Linked DNA regions of Homo sapiens: region 2 is linked to region 1. Evidence: fine-mapped expression QTL. Tissue or cell type: monocytes after LPS. Region 1 holds a variant in brackets; the other region holds the start of a gene. All regions are shown on one strand. Distances are between the middles of the regions.

Region 1 (8,108 bases):
TATTCTGCCGCTGGCAAAAATTATAATGAGATATTTCAAAGGCAAGTCATGTTATTAAATTAAGCGATATCTTGACTTATTCTTTCTGAAATTCATATGAATAAATATTAATTATAGATATAAAGGGTATATAAAAATGTGTAAAGTATTAAAGTAACCATATATAATTTATATACCATACATTATGTATATGTAAAATATAAAATATACTATATATATTTTTGTATATATACATGTATATGTATGTACATGTAATATTTGCATATATATGTAAATGTGTATGTTTGTGTGTGTGTGTGTGTATATACATATACACACATGCACATATTATATAGTTGTCCCTTGATATCCACGGGGGATTCGTTCCAAGACCCCCATGGGATACCAAAATCCACAGATGCTCAAGTTCCTTACATAAAGTGTCAGAGTATATGCATATAACCTGTGTACATCCTCTCGTATACTTTAAATCATCTCTAGATAACTTATAATACCTAACATAAATGCTATGCAAATAATTGTTATACCATATTGTTTAGGGAATAATAAGAAAAAATGTCTGTACTTGTTCAGTAGAGACAAAATGACATTTTTTTTTCCTGAATATTTTTGATCCACAGTTGGTTGAATCTGTAGGTGTGAAATCCACGGATATGGATGGCTAACTGTATATTTAAACACATACAGTTTTTTCAAAATATGTGAACATTCTTTACTGAGCATTTTCTAAAACAATATATTTTCCATCATGGCATAAATATGTAAATCCAAACCAAAGAATTTCAAAATAACATTCAAAAAGACTCCATAGAATTCTGCATACTTATGCAATGTTCAATAATAAGTTTATATTTCACACTTAGTTACTTACGTTCCATGAAATAGGGCCCAGGCTCAATTCTCCATACAATTTGCCCTTTTTGTGTTCCAGTCACACCCCTGTTCTTAGAATCCCAGAAGTTGGCTGGAGAATTCTCATCTAGAAAAACCAAAGAAACACTTTTCAGATTAATTATAACCTTTCTCTCCGTAGCAGGAAGATTAACATAAGTTCTAAAATAAATGGAAAAAAGATAAATGAGAAAATATAATGCACATTATTCTTAATGACTACCTCCCAGCAGAGTATTACCCGAGTTTCTGTGCTTGCATTTATGTGGGAGAAAGAAGGCTGGGGGGAAAGAAGATGGCATCTCTGGGCTTGGCCAAGGTGGTCAATGTTGCCAAAAGACAAAACTGCAAAGAACAAAGGGTACAACTGCTACAACTTTAGCTATGAGCTGATTTATAACAAAGGGGTTGGGTGTGCTCCCATTTGTAAAACGCTTTTATAAAAAGGAAAGGAAGAACAGACCTAGGAGAATATAACAGAATTCAAGATGGGATGAACAAAAGGGACGTTAAGCTACGAAAGTGAGTCAAGATACAGCACAGCTTTGCCAGGAACAGTGTTTAGGGAACACAAACCAAGTTCATCACATCTGTCAGGACAGTCCTTTGCAAAAGACCAAAGGCATAGACCTTGAGACAAGATAAGAAAAAAAAAAAAAAAAAAAAAAGAGTCTCTATAGGCTTTTGTGTTGAAGAAGAATAGAAAGAACAGTGATCCCCCCAAAAGGCCTGAAAGCAGCATTTTCCAAGCTTTCTGACCTCATGGCACAAAGAAAGTGGTAGTATTTGTATGGCAACACTAGATTCAACAGAGGCCATGATTACAATTTAATATGACAGGCAGGGATGCTCTGGCTTCCTCAGACTCTGCCCCCAGCACCCTGAGGACTGGGGATTCATATTCTATAATTTGCTCACATTACACTAGTTTGAAGCTCTGTCTTAGTGGCCCAGAATAGGAAATGAAACTAGAAAACACGAAAAGGAGACAATTTGGAGTTTTATAGGCACATTAAAAAGTATATAGTGATCCTGGCTCTTAATGCCAGATGTACCTCATTTGTTTCCCCAAATCCCTTTCCAAGGAGGAAGGATTAAGGTTGCACTTTAACTGAGAGTTGGAATAAAGAAGACGGGGTGAAGTATGAGCTACACTAAAAATGGAAAGATGGAGAAAAGGTCCCAAGCCCAAAGGAATAGTCCTGAGGAGAAAAACCTTTCTTCTTTTAAGCATGAAAGAAACAGAAAATGGGTCAAAGCAAGGGGACAGAGGGATTTCTGGTTTTTTTTGTGGTTGCCCTACTAGTTTCATCATATTGAAAAGCCAAAGAACTTTGGGAGGGATGGTCCTTTCATGCATTTGCATTGAGCACATTATAAGTCAAAGGTTCTTTACTGTGAAAGGCCAAGAAGCAGCCACTGTTCTTTATAAGAATGGAAAGACATAACCCATTCATGGCATCACATCCTCTCCTAGATAAACAATGCGAGCAAACAACTCCATTTCATACAGAAATATAACCAAGATGCTGATACTTAGATGGTACTCGGGCAATCACTTAAAAATCACTGGATTTGAAAGGTATCACATGGCTCCTCAGGGCAGACCCTGCTTGCTGCATAACCACTGAGCTTCTACCTTGCCAACTGAACCCCAATTTTGTTCAAGGCAACAATGTGCCCTGTTAAAAATACCTCTCCAAAATCCCATCCAGCTAATGGTGACATGTGGCCTGGTTCTGCCCAGTGAAATGTAAGTGGAAGTCTACTAGGTGGAACCCTATGGAAAACTGTAATTTTCCTAATAAGAAAAGGACAAACTCAACATCCTTTTGCTCTTCCCTGTCCCCTCTTTTTGAAGTAAAGCCACATTGCTAAGATGGCAGAGCAAGAAGCAAGACGCAATCAGGATGATCCATTGAGCCCTGACCCACCTGCCTTCAGGCTTCTTGCTACCTAGGAAAAAAAAATCCCATTTGGTTAAGCCACTGTGGTTGTGTTTCTGTTACCTGCAGCTACACACAATTCTTAACAGATATACCCATCCTAAAAACCACTCAGTGATTCAGACTCATCATTTCTGACTTGATCTGGAATCCTCAAGTTTGGATCACTGCTCCAGGTTAGACAACAAGGGTATTTGCTTCACCTTCTGAAAGATACTTTAATTAGCAGAGCTGCTTGGATGCTGGGAGAAGAACTCTCCTATTTTCACAAATAAATTTACTTATTAGCTACTGGTCACTTGGAAGGCACAGAAGGCTGGACTCTAAAAGAAAGAGAACACACACATAGGAGATAGAGGGTGTCCACCTATTCACAAAGCTTTTTAAAAAAGTAGTTATGTACATGGGAAATTTCCTAAAAACGTTGTTGTAACAGATTCCTTCCTCTTGAGGCCTCAGAAAAGATGAGGCAGTATCAAATCTGGTTTTAAGGAGCAAGTACTAGAATCAAGAAGATAAAAAGCAACTGTAAAAAAGTTGTACCTGTTAATGTGACCTCACTGTAAAAGTGTATGCATTATTTGGTATTACTAAACTTTTTCTCCCCAGGCAATCAATTAAGCCAATAAATTAATCCAAACGCATTTCTGACATGACAATTTTGGGAACATGGACCAGTGAGGGTCAAAAATTAGAATGGATGGGTAGGAATGGGATGAGGATGAGGCCTGAACCCTGGACAGAGGAGATCCTGAGGCTCCTTTACATGGTCCCTAGAAGGGAGCTTGGACAGAGAACTGGTGTCAGCATCTCTTATTCTAAGTGGGTCACTAATATCACTTCCTTTGCTAGTTAGGTTCATCTCTAGGTATAAATATTGTACTACTTGCATACCCTTGCTTAGTCTCAGAAGTAGGAAATAAGGGAGAATAAATAACGTGTGCTTTCTTCCCAGACCCTTTACCATGAAACAAGCCTAGAGTTAAGTGTTCAATCCACCCACCAGCTCCTGTAGGTTGGGATAAACTCTATATCTCTGTAACTCTGCCTTAGTTCCCCTGGTTAGTTCATAGGCCATGTAGAAAATTCCATTTCCAGCCGGGCACAGTGGCTCACACCTGTAATCCTAGCACTTTTGGAGGCTGAGGCAGGTGGATCACGAGGTCAGGAATTCGAGACCAGCCTGGCCAACATGGTGAAACCCTGTGTCTACTGAAAATACAGAAAACAAAAAAATTAGCTGGGCGTGGTGACAGGCGCCTGTAATCCCAGCTACTCGGGAGGCTGAGGCAGGTGAATTGCTTGAACCCGAGAGGTGGAGTTTGCAGTGAGCCGAGATCACGCCACCGTACTCTAGCCTGGGCGACAGAGTGAGACTCCGTCT[CA/C]AAAAAAAAAAAAAAAATTCCATTTCCGTTTGGTGACTTTTTATTTATTTATTTATTTTTTTTGACATGGAGTCTCATTCTGTCACCCAGGCTGGAGTACAGTGGTGTTATCTAAGCTCACTGCAACCTCTGCCTCCTGGGTTCAAGTGATTCTCCTGCCTCAGCCTCCCGAGTAGCTGGGATTACAGGCGCCTGCCACCACGCCCAGCTAATTTTTTTGATTTTTATATTTTCAGTAGAGACGGGGTTTCACCATGTTGGCCAGGCTGGTCTCGAATTCCTGACCTCGTGATCCACCTGCTTTGGCCTCCCAAAATGCTAGGATTACAGGTGTAAGCCACCACGCCTGGCTAATTTTTGTATTTTTCAAAATACAAAATACAAAATAGAGATGAGGTTTCACCATGTTGGCTAGGCTGGTCTCGAACTCCTGACCTTGGGTGATCAGCCTGCCTCAACCTCTGAAACTGCTGGGATTACAGGCATGAGCCACCACACCTGGCCTGGTGAAATCTGTGACATTTAAAGAAATAAAAGTTAGCCCTTTGAAGCCAAATGGGTAAATTGTACCATGAGTATTCAGGTTCACACAGAACACAAATGTTCCATATACGACAAAAAATGGGTCAGAAGCAGAATGAGCTGACCCTGAGCAGAAGCTGGATGGGCCTGTTTTGATTACAGAAAACAAGTTCAAATGCCATGGCCAGTGACCATCCTTTGGCCTTCATAAGGAAGGAAAGCTGCTGCGTTATTCCTTGCCAACCATGGTGCTTGTCAAGTAAGAGACCCTCAAGTTAATATTCTGGTTATTCTAGATGGAAATTTTTCTTTGATGTGATCATATTCTTGATAATTCATTATCCTTGACAGATACAAATACTTCCGCCACTGAGTGGCAGCAACCCTTAATTGCAAATATGAATCCTGAGAAATAAGTTTAGGGACACAGAGTTCACATTACTGTGAAATGGCTACTACAATCTCTACAACTGCCACTGCTCCTACTGTGGCTAGCAGAGCTATGGCCAGCCTTGGCACATCATGCTAAGAAATGCCTAGAATGACTAATTCCTTTGTTCCAAGAAGATCAATTTTAATTAGTCCTTTAGATTAAATTTTTTGTTCACATCTTTGTTTACGTTGCAGTCAATTTTGGTCTAGCCTGAGAATCATTTTAGAGTGGTAGCATTTTCTCTGCTCAGCTCTATTGTTCATGGATTTTTTTGTATAGGCCAACATATTTTTTTTCCTATATTCAATGAACTATTCTTTTTTATCCTCATTTAGTACCTGTATGAGGTGATTTGGTTTTTTCAAAATGCCCCCAACCCAAAGTAAGAACAATAGTGGGCCCAGGTGCAGTGGGTCATGCCTGTCATCCTAACACTTCAGTAGGACAAGATAGGAGGATTGCTTGAGGCCAGAAGTTTGAGACCAGCCTGGGCAACACAACAAGACCCTGTCTCTACAAAAAAAAAATTTTTTTAATTAGCTGGGCATGGTGGCATGCACCTGTAGCCCTAGTTACTCAGAAGGCTGAGACAGGGGTGTCCCTTGAGCCCAGGAGTTTGAGGCTGCAGTGAGCCACGATTGCACCACTGCACTGTAGCCCAGATGACAGAGCAAGACCCTAACTCAAAAAAAAGAACAATAACTGAATATAAAAAGGTATATCAAAGAAACAATTCTAAATCCCCCACATGTGTAATATAGAAGTAATTATAACTTTATTTCTTCCTTTAACTGAGTAAAGGTTCCGACAAATCATAGAATGCCACTGGTCTTTAAAACCAAGTTATACTTGGCCACTTCCCTTTCTCGTTTCTCTTAACAATTCCAAATCTGTCTCTGTCCTCACATCCCCTACCTAATTTCCACCCTCACTGGAACTCTGTGTGAACTCTGTGTCCCTAAACTCATGCATTCTGTGGCATCCAAGAGGACATTAGGCCTGATCTCCCTTGATTTCTCCATCTCCCTACTACTATCTCCTCTGTATCTGTGCCTACTTCTTGCCTTCTTGCCCAGGGTTCTACTCCCCCTTACAGTGGTGCCTGCGGCACCCTCTTCTCCACCAGTCACTTTCTGTCATCTTAATATTTAACCTTTTTCTCTAGAGGGACCTTCCACTCAACCTAGACACCTGTCAGCTTCCATGAGGCATATTCTCCTGCTTTTGTCTTTGTTCTTTGACTATTACCTTCCTTGCCTTCTTTCCCATCCTCATTCCTATTTCCTCTCGTACTAGGATTAAAGTGTCTGTTTTTTTGTTACAAAACAGTCTATATTACAGGAGTATATATTCTAGATTCTTAGGTTACTTCCTAGTGGAAATATAATTACAAAGAAAGGGACATTGGAGATGTTAATACATATATACCCAAATACCTTCTAAATCTAATTTTGTTTGGTAGGCTTTATATTAAGCTTGTCCCTTTGTGTCTCACGACTTCTTCATTCTCTTACAAGTCTAGTTGGCTACACATTTTCTCTAAATAGAAAAGTGAAACGTGTGTGTGTGTGTGTGTGCGCGCGCACACATGCGTACCTTGGCCTCCCAAAGTACTGGGATTACAGATGTGAGCCACCATGCCTGAACATGATACTTATCCAAAGTGATTTCATTTATTATTATTTTAAATTACAACTTAGAGCTACTCCCATTAATCCTGTTACTAATACTGGAATTAGTTATGTTAATTCTGCTTCTTCAAGGGAGAAACAAAGTGTTTGGACCCAGGAGATAAAAGAGTAGAAATAGAAGATTACAACACACAACCCTCTTCTACTAACTATATAATGACACAGAGAAACTTCTCAGAGCTTGTTAATGAGGTGAGAAATAGGCCCCTTTTCCTTCATTAAAACCACATTATTTTTAGGAGGAACACCTAGGGGTCTTAAACAGAATCTCTATATAAGCAGACTTACCAAAATCTCCTGCACATTCACTGTCACAGATCCTCACGGGTCACCATCTCTTTTAGCTACCTGATCCTCCAGGGCAACGAATGCCCAACTTCATGGCTCACAATGAATGAGGGGGTGGGTGGTGCTTCTTTAAAATGCTACTTCCTGCATGGTGGCTCATGCTTGTAATCCCAGCACTTTGGGAGGCCGAGGCAGGCAGATCACTTGAGGTCAGGAGTTTGAGATCAGCCTGGCTAACATGGTGAAACCTCGACTCTAATAAAAATACAAAAAATTAGCTGGGTGTGGAGGCACACACCTGTAATCCCAGCTATACGGGAGGCTGAGGCAGGAGAACTGCTTGAACCTGGGAGGTGGAGGTTGCAGGGAGCTGAGATTGTGCCACTGCACTCCGGCCTGGGCAACAGGGCGAGACTCCGTCTTAAAAAAATAAACAAATAAAATGCTAATTCTTGTGCTGCTCTTCCAGAGACTTTGAATTTAGTAGGTTTGAGTCTGGGCTCAGGAATCTGAATTTTAGCAAGCACCCCAACCAGATGATTCAGATGCAAGTACCATAAAGACCACATTTTGAAAAATTCTGCTTCATGGTTATTTCCAGGGAAGTTGAGCAATCACAGCAATGCTGTGGACCATGCATATGTCTTTGACCATTGTCCCTCTCATTTGTTACCTTGTTCATTCATTCATTCATTTGACAGGTATTTATTGACTGACTACTATGAAGACCATAAGCATCTATTTCCTGCCATAAGCAGCTGACGGGATAAGGGGGGATATTTCCTGCCATAAGGAGCTGACGGGATAAGGCACATAGATATATAATGCAATGCGAAAATTACTATGGTAAAGGTAACCATGTTTTGTTAAAAGAGGAAAAAAGAGGAGGAATGATTAGTCATCCTGGTGTCTGTGCTTGATTCATATGGTTCTGAGCTGTTAGGTTTAAAGT
Region 2 (8,101 bases), 250 kb after region 1:
ACAACAGTTCTCCCTCTCTGCGACCCCTCTGTATGAAAAGCTGAGACCCAAACCAAACACTGGAGACACAAGGGAGTACAGAAAACAAAAGCCCTCCTATTATCCTCATGGCCCTGAGAGCTTGGAAACTAAGAGAATGTGGAATCAAGTCTTCACAACAACACTTGTGTTCTGGAATCTCAGTAAATATCCAAGATCTGGACCAGACACTAGATCTTGAAACTTGCATTCCTACCTCTAAGAGCCATGGTAACCACTAGGTCTGCAAACAGGTTTTGTAGAAACTGCTCTCCCAAATCAAAGGATTTGTCCCAATTAGTGTCAGCTCTAGATATATGGACAGGTGTTAATTCATATTGTGCTTGAAGACAATAATAATATGGGCTTACAGCCACGGCAGATGCTTAGTAACTTAAGAATAAAACTATTTTATTCACTATGTGTGTAAATAGATGACAAGCAATTATCTCATTCTCCTATCTTCCTTCCTCCTATTTCATTTTTTCTTATATATTTTTCAGGTTTAAATTTTTCTGATTTTCTAGCTTTGCATTTAATAAATAAAAGACTGAAATAAGGCAAGACTCAAAATCTGGTGTCGGAAGAGGGGTGATGAAAAAAATTCAGGATTCCTTAATATCTAGGGTGACCAGATAATTATCACCCAAACCAGGACACTTTTACATGTGAAAGGGGGTGCTTTTGATAATTAAGATAAACCAACAGGAGTAAACTGGCACTGTCACAAGCAAAGCAGGGCATCTCGTCACCTTTCTAATCTCTCATTCATATCCTGATACAAAAGGCATCCTGTGTGTAATGAAGCAACCTCTGCCTCTGTTAAATCAATCAAACTTCAAACATAGTCCTCCCTCTTTCAGGCCAGGCCTGGCTTTTGATAACAGAGCTGGAAAGGTTTTCACCCAATGCTGCCATTCCCTATCCAACACACCAAGCAAAACTGGTTCCAGTTTTTCCCAAGAAAGTAGTCAGCAATGCACAAGAATGTGGATCCAGGCCAGGCCCACAGCAAGCCCCAGGCGAGAAGCCTCTGGTTTCTCTTAAAGGAACACTTCACAACAGAGAAAGCCACCTGGTTAGAGGTTACACAGATACCAACCATATAGACTTAACAAGCATTTTGAATGCAAGATCATTTCATTGATGTGTAGGCACATATTAAAACTGGGAAGATCCCAAAAGCCACCTCTCCTGCAAAACACATTCATCTAGGAGAAAACGCCAAAGCATCTGTCCTCAACTACAGGTAACAACCTTGGTTTCTTTGCCTTTGGCTGAAATCAGTGTTGCAAAAGCCTTTTAAAAGAGTAAGAAAATATAGGTTTTTCTCCCAAGATCACATTGCCCAAGTGAAACAGAACCAGTGCTTACTTTTATTTTTTGTCTCCTGTTCAGAGGGGTCAAACATTGCTCATAATCTTCATTAAATTTAGTCCTGTGGCTGGCAAATGTTAATTTACTGGAATATTTTCCTTCACATTCATAAAGAGGGAAAACTAGCTTTGTGATCTGGTTGCAATCTACACAACACATAGATAATCCACAACAGTGGTAGGCGCAGAAAAGCTCCAGCTGGTTTATCTCAAATGTTCAGAATGATTTTGATTTCTTTACCGACACCACAGCCATTCATAAAGATTCATTGCCAAATGTTGCCCAATACCGTGATAGAGGCGATGGTGAAGCGAATGTCTTAGACTGGGAAATCATCATGGTGCCCAAACCTCAGAGTCTGCGGCCAAATGGTGGGGATTTGGAAATCACCTGTCACGGAGATGGTGAAGGAAACTGGATTCAAACTAATGAAGACTAAAGTCTTTCCAGCCAGAAGACGGTTTGAGTCCAAGGGGCCATTTATATACAAGAGCTAAGAAAGGTGCAACTGATTTTCCCCCAGAAGCAGCACGATTATTTTTAAGTTCAAAGACATTTTTGTTAATAAACTGCTTCACACAACCACATCGAAGCCAAAATGTGCCAATGAAATAATCAAAACAAATAGCTCAATTGGGACTTTTTGAATGTTCAACAAAAAGAAAAATTAAAGCTGGTTAGACTGCTGGATAGTAACGTTACAGTGTCTCCTTTAAGAGATCAAAATGTCTTTGCCACCCTCCACCCCACCCTACCCCACCTCTAATAGTGAAGTGGATAATTTCTGAAGAATACAATGACCCTTTATGCCTGGCTTCTCTAGTCTGCTAGGGATGCCATCTGTCTCCCACGCTATATAAACAATCCCCGCAGGAATCTTCTGATGACCAAACAGATTAGCAAACTCCAGATTTTCACGCCATTAATAATATCCCCATCCAGATTAGGCCTTTTATTTTAATAACTCCAAAGATAAAGTCAATAACTGATCTTTCTTTCTTTGTAGATAATGTGTGTGTCATTTTAAAGATAACCTCTTGGAACATACAGCCATCTGTTGGGAAGAGAAAGAAAAAAAGCTCTCTCAAAGCAACAGAAGAAATGAACCCTCGAGGGAATAGGAGAAATAGTAAAAAGAAAATCATATTTATAAGACAAACACATGGAGAGCTCTACTAATTACACTAAAATATTCTTCTTCTAAATGACAAACTATAGAACACTACTCCAGAAAAGACAAGTTTCACACTTTCACAAAGGTATATATATACGAAAACAGTTTGCGTGAGTCTAGGACAGTGAAAGCAGAAATCATAACCCAAAAGCTAAAGGCCCCCGAAGTTTGCATGCTGTCCACCTCTATCTGTAATGATCACAAATGTTTTCCTTCCTGAAGTTTAATATCGATTGAACCCTTGTAACTCTAATTGTGAGCTCTCTGTACTGACTCCAAAGACTTCTAACTCTAAAAGAAATGTGCCTGTAAAGATGTTCTCTAAATTAATAATAATAAACGACGAAAAGCACCCGAGCGCTGCTAATAGTGAAGACAAGGCATGAGAGAGTCAGACCTCTGCAGTCTCGCGTCCTCGGAAACGTCTACGTCTAAATCTGCAGCCCCAGTTTGCTCCAGGCCCCAAGCTCCAGCAGAGGATGTTCACGGCACATTCCCAACCAAAAAGGAAATGAAGCGTCCTCTCCCTCAACTGATGCTCAAATAGACCCCAAAGTCCCAGTTTCCCTGGAGAACCAAACCATCCAACACATCCTGGGCAGCGGAAACCGAAATGGCAAATGAATGACCGCGCCGGGGCGCAAGGGAGGAAAAACAAAGCCACCTCCCGCCGTCCGCTACCTGCGGCGAGGGCCGCGCGCTCACCTGGGCTTTGCGCCCGTCGCCACAAGCTGCGGGTGGGGACCCGGCCGCGGGGCGGGAGGGCGCCCCCAAAGTCGCCCGGACCCGCGGCCCCGGCGCCCTGCGGCCGGTCCGTGCGCGCCGAGGAGAAAGCAGGCGGCCGGGGGCGCCGCCGCGCGTTGCATGCAGCTCACGGCTGCTGCGGCCGCTGCCACGGAGCCGAGAGTCTCTGCGCTGCAGTCCCCGACCCCGAGACCGCGAGAAGCGCCCGGAGAGACGCGGCGCAGGGGCAGAGCGCGCTCGGCGCGCCCCTCAGCGGCTCTTCCCGCCGCCCTCCGCAGCGGGCTGGGTCTCGGCTCGCCTTTGTGCTGGCATCTTCCTAGCTCCCAGCGACACCCAGAGCTCTCGAGGCGGCTCCGCGCCGCCACCCACCCCCGGGTTACGCCACGGCCCCCGCGCGACCCGCCGATTGTGTCGAGTCAGCAGCGGCAGCGGGGACGCGCGAAGCCATGGCTCCCGCCCGCGCTCGGGAGGGCGCCGGGGGTCCTGCGCCTCCGGGAGGTTTGTGGCCGAGCGCGGCGCGGCCCCGAGCGGCCCCGCAGCGCCCGGCTCCCCGCCGCTCGCTCTCCAGGCGCCGACCCGCCTGCGTCGCCACCCTCTCGCCGCTCCCTGCCGCCACCTTCCTCCCGCCCGGGTGCCGGGCGTCCGCTCCAGCCGCGGTGCCCCGGTCCGCGGAGAGCGAAGAGTCCGGCCTCCTCACCTCCAGCCGCGCCGGCGCCCTTCCCGCTAGACGCTTCGGCGGCATCTGCCCGCACCGCCCTGCGGGACGCTGGGCTGGGAGCTGGCGGCACGTCGGGGACCGGTGGAAGGGAGGCGGGGGCAGAGGACAGGAGGGACAGCCAGACCTTGGCCAGCGGGACCTCCCTGAGGAAGGTGCGGAAGAACGGGGCGGGTGCGGCTGGGCGGAGGACGAGTCCCGAGGCTGCGGCGGAGCCTGAGTTGCTCTCCTTCTGCGAAGTCGAAGGACAGGAGGATTCCTAGAGGTGTCGCGGAGGGTGGAGGAGACCCTCTGAGGTCGTGCAGACAACACTGTTCCTCAACCCCACCAGAAAGCTGAATAGGGGAGTGTCATGCCTCGGTTTCCCCAACTGCAAGGGCAAGACGGTAATACTCATGTCGCACACACAGGGTGTGGTCACGATGAAAAAATGGATTATTGAAAGCGTTCCCAGATACTTTGCCTAAAGAGGGCACTAAAATTTAAAATTACTGTATTAATACTTTCGGCTTTCTGTTTACTTCTATAGCATCTTCATCAACCAGTCCCACGTAGGAGAAAAAGTAAAAATGCTAAAGTGTAAATATATTGTGTCCCTCCCCACCCACCCTTGCATCTGTCCAGATTTAGGGAAGATTTATTCAATTTTACAATTTAACTATATCCATATGGAGTAAGTCCCCAAATAATGGATAGCCATTCCTTTGGGACTTTTGAGTGTGTGCTCAATATTATCCATTTCTCCGCCTTTTCTGGTAACAGCAGTTCATTATTCCTATGGGAACTGCCCTTCCCCCTCACCCACAATGAGTCTTTGTGGCTCCAGGGTACTGACACCTCCCACCCTCAACCCCCAGAACTAGCCAGTCATCTTCCGGACCGCAGTGATCGGTTCTGGGTTGGGCATGTTGATCCAGGAACTCGGCCTAGGGCTTTGGATGTATTACTGCAGAAAAATAAGCTCTTTAAACTAGGATAACTAAATTGGAAGGATATAAGCCTACGGTAACAAGGACCAACAGTGCATGCCAATGAAGCCAACTTTGAGGGAAGAAAAGCTGCTGGTGAGAGGGTGATGTCCCACCCTCTCAGGAACCTCAGGAGGTAGATGTGTCTGCAGTGAACTCTACCCTTGAAGCCAATAAATCCTCTCTCTTTTATTTCAAGTCAGTGTCAGCTGTGTTTTGTCACATGTCTCAGAGGAGCCCTGACTTCTTAGTCCCCTGGATCTATCAGCCCAGGCATCACTGTTAGGATCCTCCACAGAATCAAAGAGCCCCACCCCACAAAAGGCCCAATTCCAGTTCTTGCTGGAAGAACAGGGATCCTAGAGGTTTGTTCCCACATGATGTTCTCCTTCACAACTTACTCAAATCCAGCAACCCCACACCTGCAATCCTTAGCTTCTTTGTGTTGATTAACCACTATGTTACATTCTAGTCAAAATGGGCCAGGTGCAGTGGCTCACACCTGTAATCATGCCTGAGGCAGGAGGATCTCTTGAAGCCAGGAGTTTAAGACCAATCTGGGCAACATAGTGAGACCCCACTAACACAGGAACAGAAAACCAAACACTGCGTTTTCTCACTCATAAGTGGGAGCTGAACAATGAGAACACATGAACACAGGGAGGAGAACATCACATCAGGGAGGAGGGGCCTATCGGGGGTTGTGGGGCTAGGGGAGGGATCTCATTAGGAGAAATACCTAATGTAGATGATGGGTTGATGGGTGCAGCAAACCACCATGGCACGTGTATACCTATGTAACAAACCTCCACGTTCTGCACATATATCCCAGAACTTAAAGTATAATACATTAAATAAAGAAAGAAATAAAAATAAAAATAGCCAGGCATGGTGGCCTGAACCTGTAATCGCAGTTACTCTGGAGGCTGAGGCAGGAAGATCAGTTGAGCCCAGGATTTCAAGACTGCAATGAGCTGTGATTGCACCACTGCACTCCAGCTTGAAGACAGAGCAAGACCCTGTCACCTTGTCAAAAAAGAAGAGGAAGAGGAAGAAGAAGGAGGAGGAGGAGGAAAAAGAAAGAAAGAAAAGAAAAACAGAAAAAGAAAGAAAAGAAAAGAGGAGGAAGGGAGGAAGGGAGGAAAGGAGGGAGAAAGAAGAACCCTAAAAATGAATAGAGGCAAAGTGAATCACTATTGCTGCCCTAGGTCTTAAAAAACATTTTTCTCTCACTTTAAAAGCAGCCCCTACTACCTTTAAAACTTTCTACATATCGACCATTAAAACCGAGACTAAGGCATCAAAGAACATTAATAGCAAAGTCATCCTAAAAATCTCAAACTTGCAAAGGTGTGTAAAGATTAGGTAGGTTCTTTCACACTGCACTCCCCGTTCGTCATCACCACCACTCTCCTTCACAAGATCTCTGACCGGGTCTCACTTATCCTCTCCTGGAGCCATTCCCTTAAAGAGAACTCAGTACTTTACAAGCTGGTCAATTCTGCATTGAAACTGGCCTGACATTAGGAAGTGATCCCTTATATTGAGTTGAAATATTTCTTCCACCTGAGAGTACTCCAAGCACTGAAGACAAACTTGTGAACCACTTGAATTGTCTCTTTTCCAAGATCTTTGCATGACCCATAAGTCATGCAGGACACATGGCAATGTGTCCTGACCCTTCATCATCCTAGGTTACTTCCTTTCTACAGATGTGCCAAGGTTTGTGACTGCTCCTTCTAAAGCATATGGCCAAAGCTAAACCCAAAGGCAGATTCCAAGAAACTTATACTCCAGCCCTCTTCCAACAACACAGAAGGAGCCTGAGAGACATGTTCATGTGGTCTTATATTTTTATAAAAGCTTCCAAAGTAAGATATTTTAATCTCAAGCGATTTGCAGTGGACTGAATGTTTGTGCTCCCCCAAATTCATGTGTTGAAATCCTAACCCCTAATGTGATGGTATTAGGAGGTGGGGCCTTTGGGAGGTGATGGAATAAATGCCCTTATAAAAGAAACCCAAGAGAGCTCTCTCACCCTCTTTCTGCCTCTTGAGGATACAAAGAAAAGATGGCAGTCTGCAACTGGAAGAGGGCCTTCCCACCCACATCACAACCACACTGGCACCCTGATCTCATTCTTCTGGCGTCCAGAACTGTGAAAAATAAATTTCTGTTGTTCATAAGCCACCCAGTCTAGGATGCTTTGTTATTGCAGCTTGAATTAAGACAAGACTGCTGTCCCTTTTCATTCTAACTTCCGTGTTGTCCTAATTCCCCTTGTTCCGAAAGAAGTGGAGTGATTGTGGACATTTGTGGGGATCTGGCTAAAGGGAAGTTGAATTGGTTAAGTGGAATACATTTATGTGGTCTGTGGGCATTAAAGTTGTGACAGTGATGTCTATTTTGACTGTGCAAAGACAGTCACTTGGGCCCTTCAGTGTTGTGACACAAAGGTAAAGGGATGGAAATTATACCACCAAGTATTAATAACTGCATACTTCAGCACCCAGCACAGAAGTATATGGGTAACGGGGTAAATGATGTTTGAAATGTATGTACGGATTCAGAACTAGAATATGGAAAACCCTCCCACATCTTATTGTTTATATGTGAAATAAATTTAATAGTGATTTTCCTAAATTTTGAAACAATCCTAAAAATATGTTACTTTCCCAATAATGCATTGTGGACTGAAAAGAAACTCCTCTAAACTATCAGTAATAAAAACAAATTTTAGTCAACTTTACTAGTGAAAACACTGGAATATCTATTAACTCTATAGAACATAATGTCACAAAATCATTTTCATATGAAGAATAAATCAAAGAGTATAAAGCCAAAATACGTAGGAAAGACATATCACAGAGGTATGTCAGGCAGTTAATTAATTTAAAGATCGTGGTATTTTTCTGTATTTGGTGATCTAATACTTGTAAGGTTGTTTTGTTGTTGTTGTTGTTGTTGCTGTTTGGTTTTTTTTTTTTGAGATGGAGTGTCACTGTCGCCTAGGCTGGGGTGCAGTGGCGCGGTCTTGGCTCACTGCAACCTCCGCCTCCCAGGTTCAAGCAGTTCTCCTGCCTTAGCCTCCAGAGTAGGTGGGAT

Which allele goes with the higher level. Alleles are on the strand shown, and positions count from the first base shown. SD is a standard deviation of normalised expression in the study named.
For the expression in monocytes after LPS of the gene that starts at base 4,057 in region 2, allele CA in region 1 goes with a lower level than allele C (moderate effect, 0.66 SD a copy in Fairfax 2014).

Evidence for each region. PIP is the estimated chance that this variant, and not a neighbour inherited with it, causes the effect.
Region 2: it holds the start of HECW2, and the variant in region 1 is fine-mapped to the expression of HECW2 in monocytes after LPS (Fairfax 2014, PIP 0.95).

The regions. Positions count from the first base shown.
Region 1 is chr2:196,342,786-196,350,893 of GRCh38, forward strand. HECW2 (HECT, C2 and WW domain containing E3 ubiquitin protein ligase 2) reads right to left here. Exons shown (of 29, transcript NM_001348768.2): 3 at 872-979. Among named protein-coding and RNA genes, the nearest start is that of HECW2-AS1, 87 kb to the left of the region's middle. The variant CA/C (reference allele first, on the strand shown) is at 4,222.
Region 2 is chr2:196,589,498-196,597,598 of GRCh38, forward strand. HECW2 (HECT, C2 and WW domain containing E3 ubiquitin protein ligase 2) reads right to left here and starts at 4,057. Exons shown (of 29, transcript NM_001348768.2): 1 at 4,011-4,057. RefSeq lists silencers at 3,286-3,665, 3,746-4,015.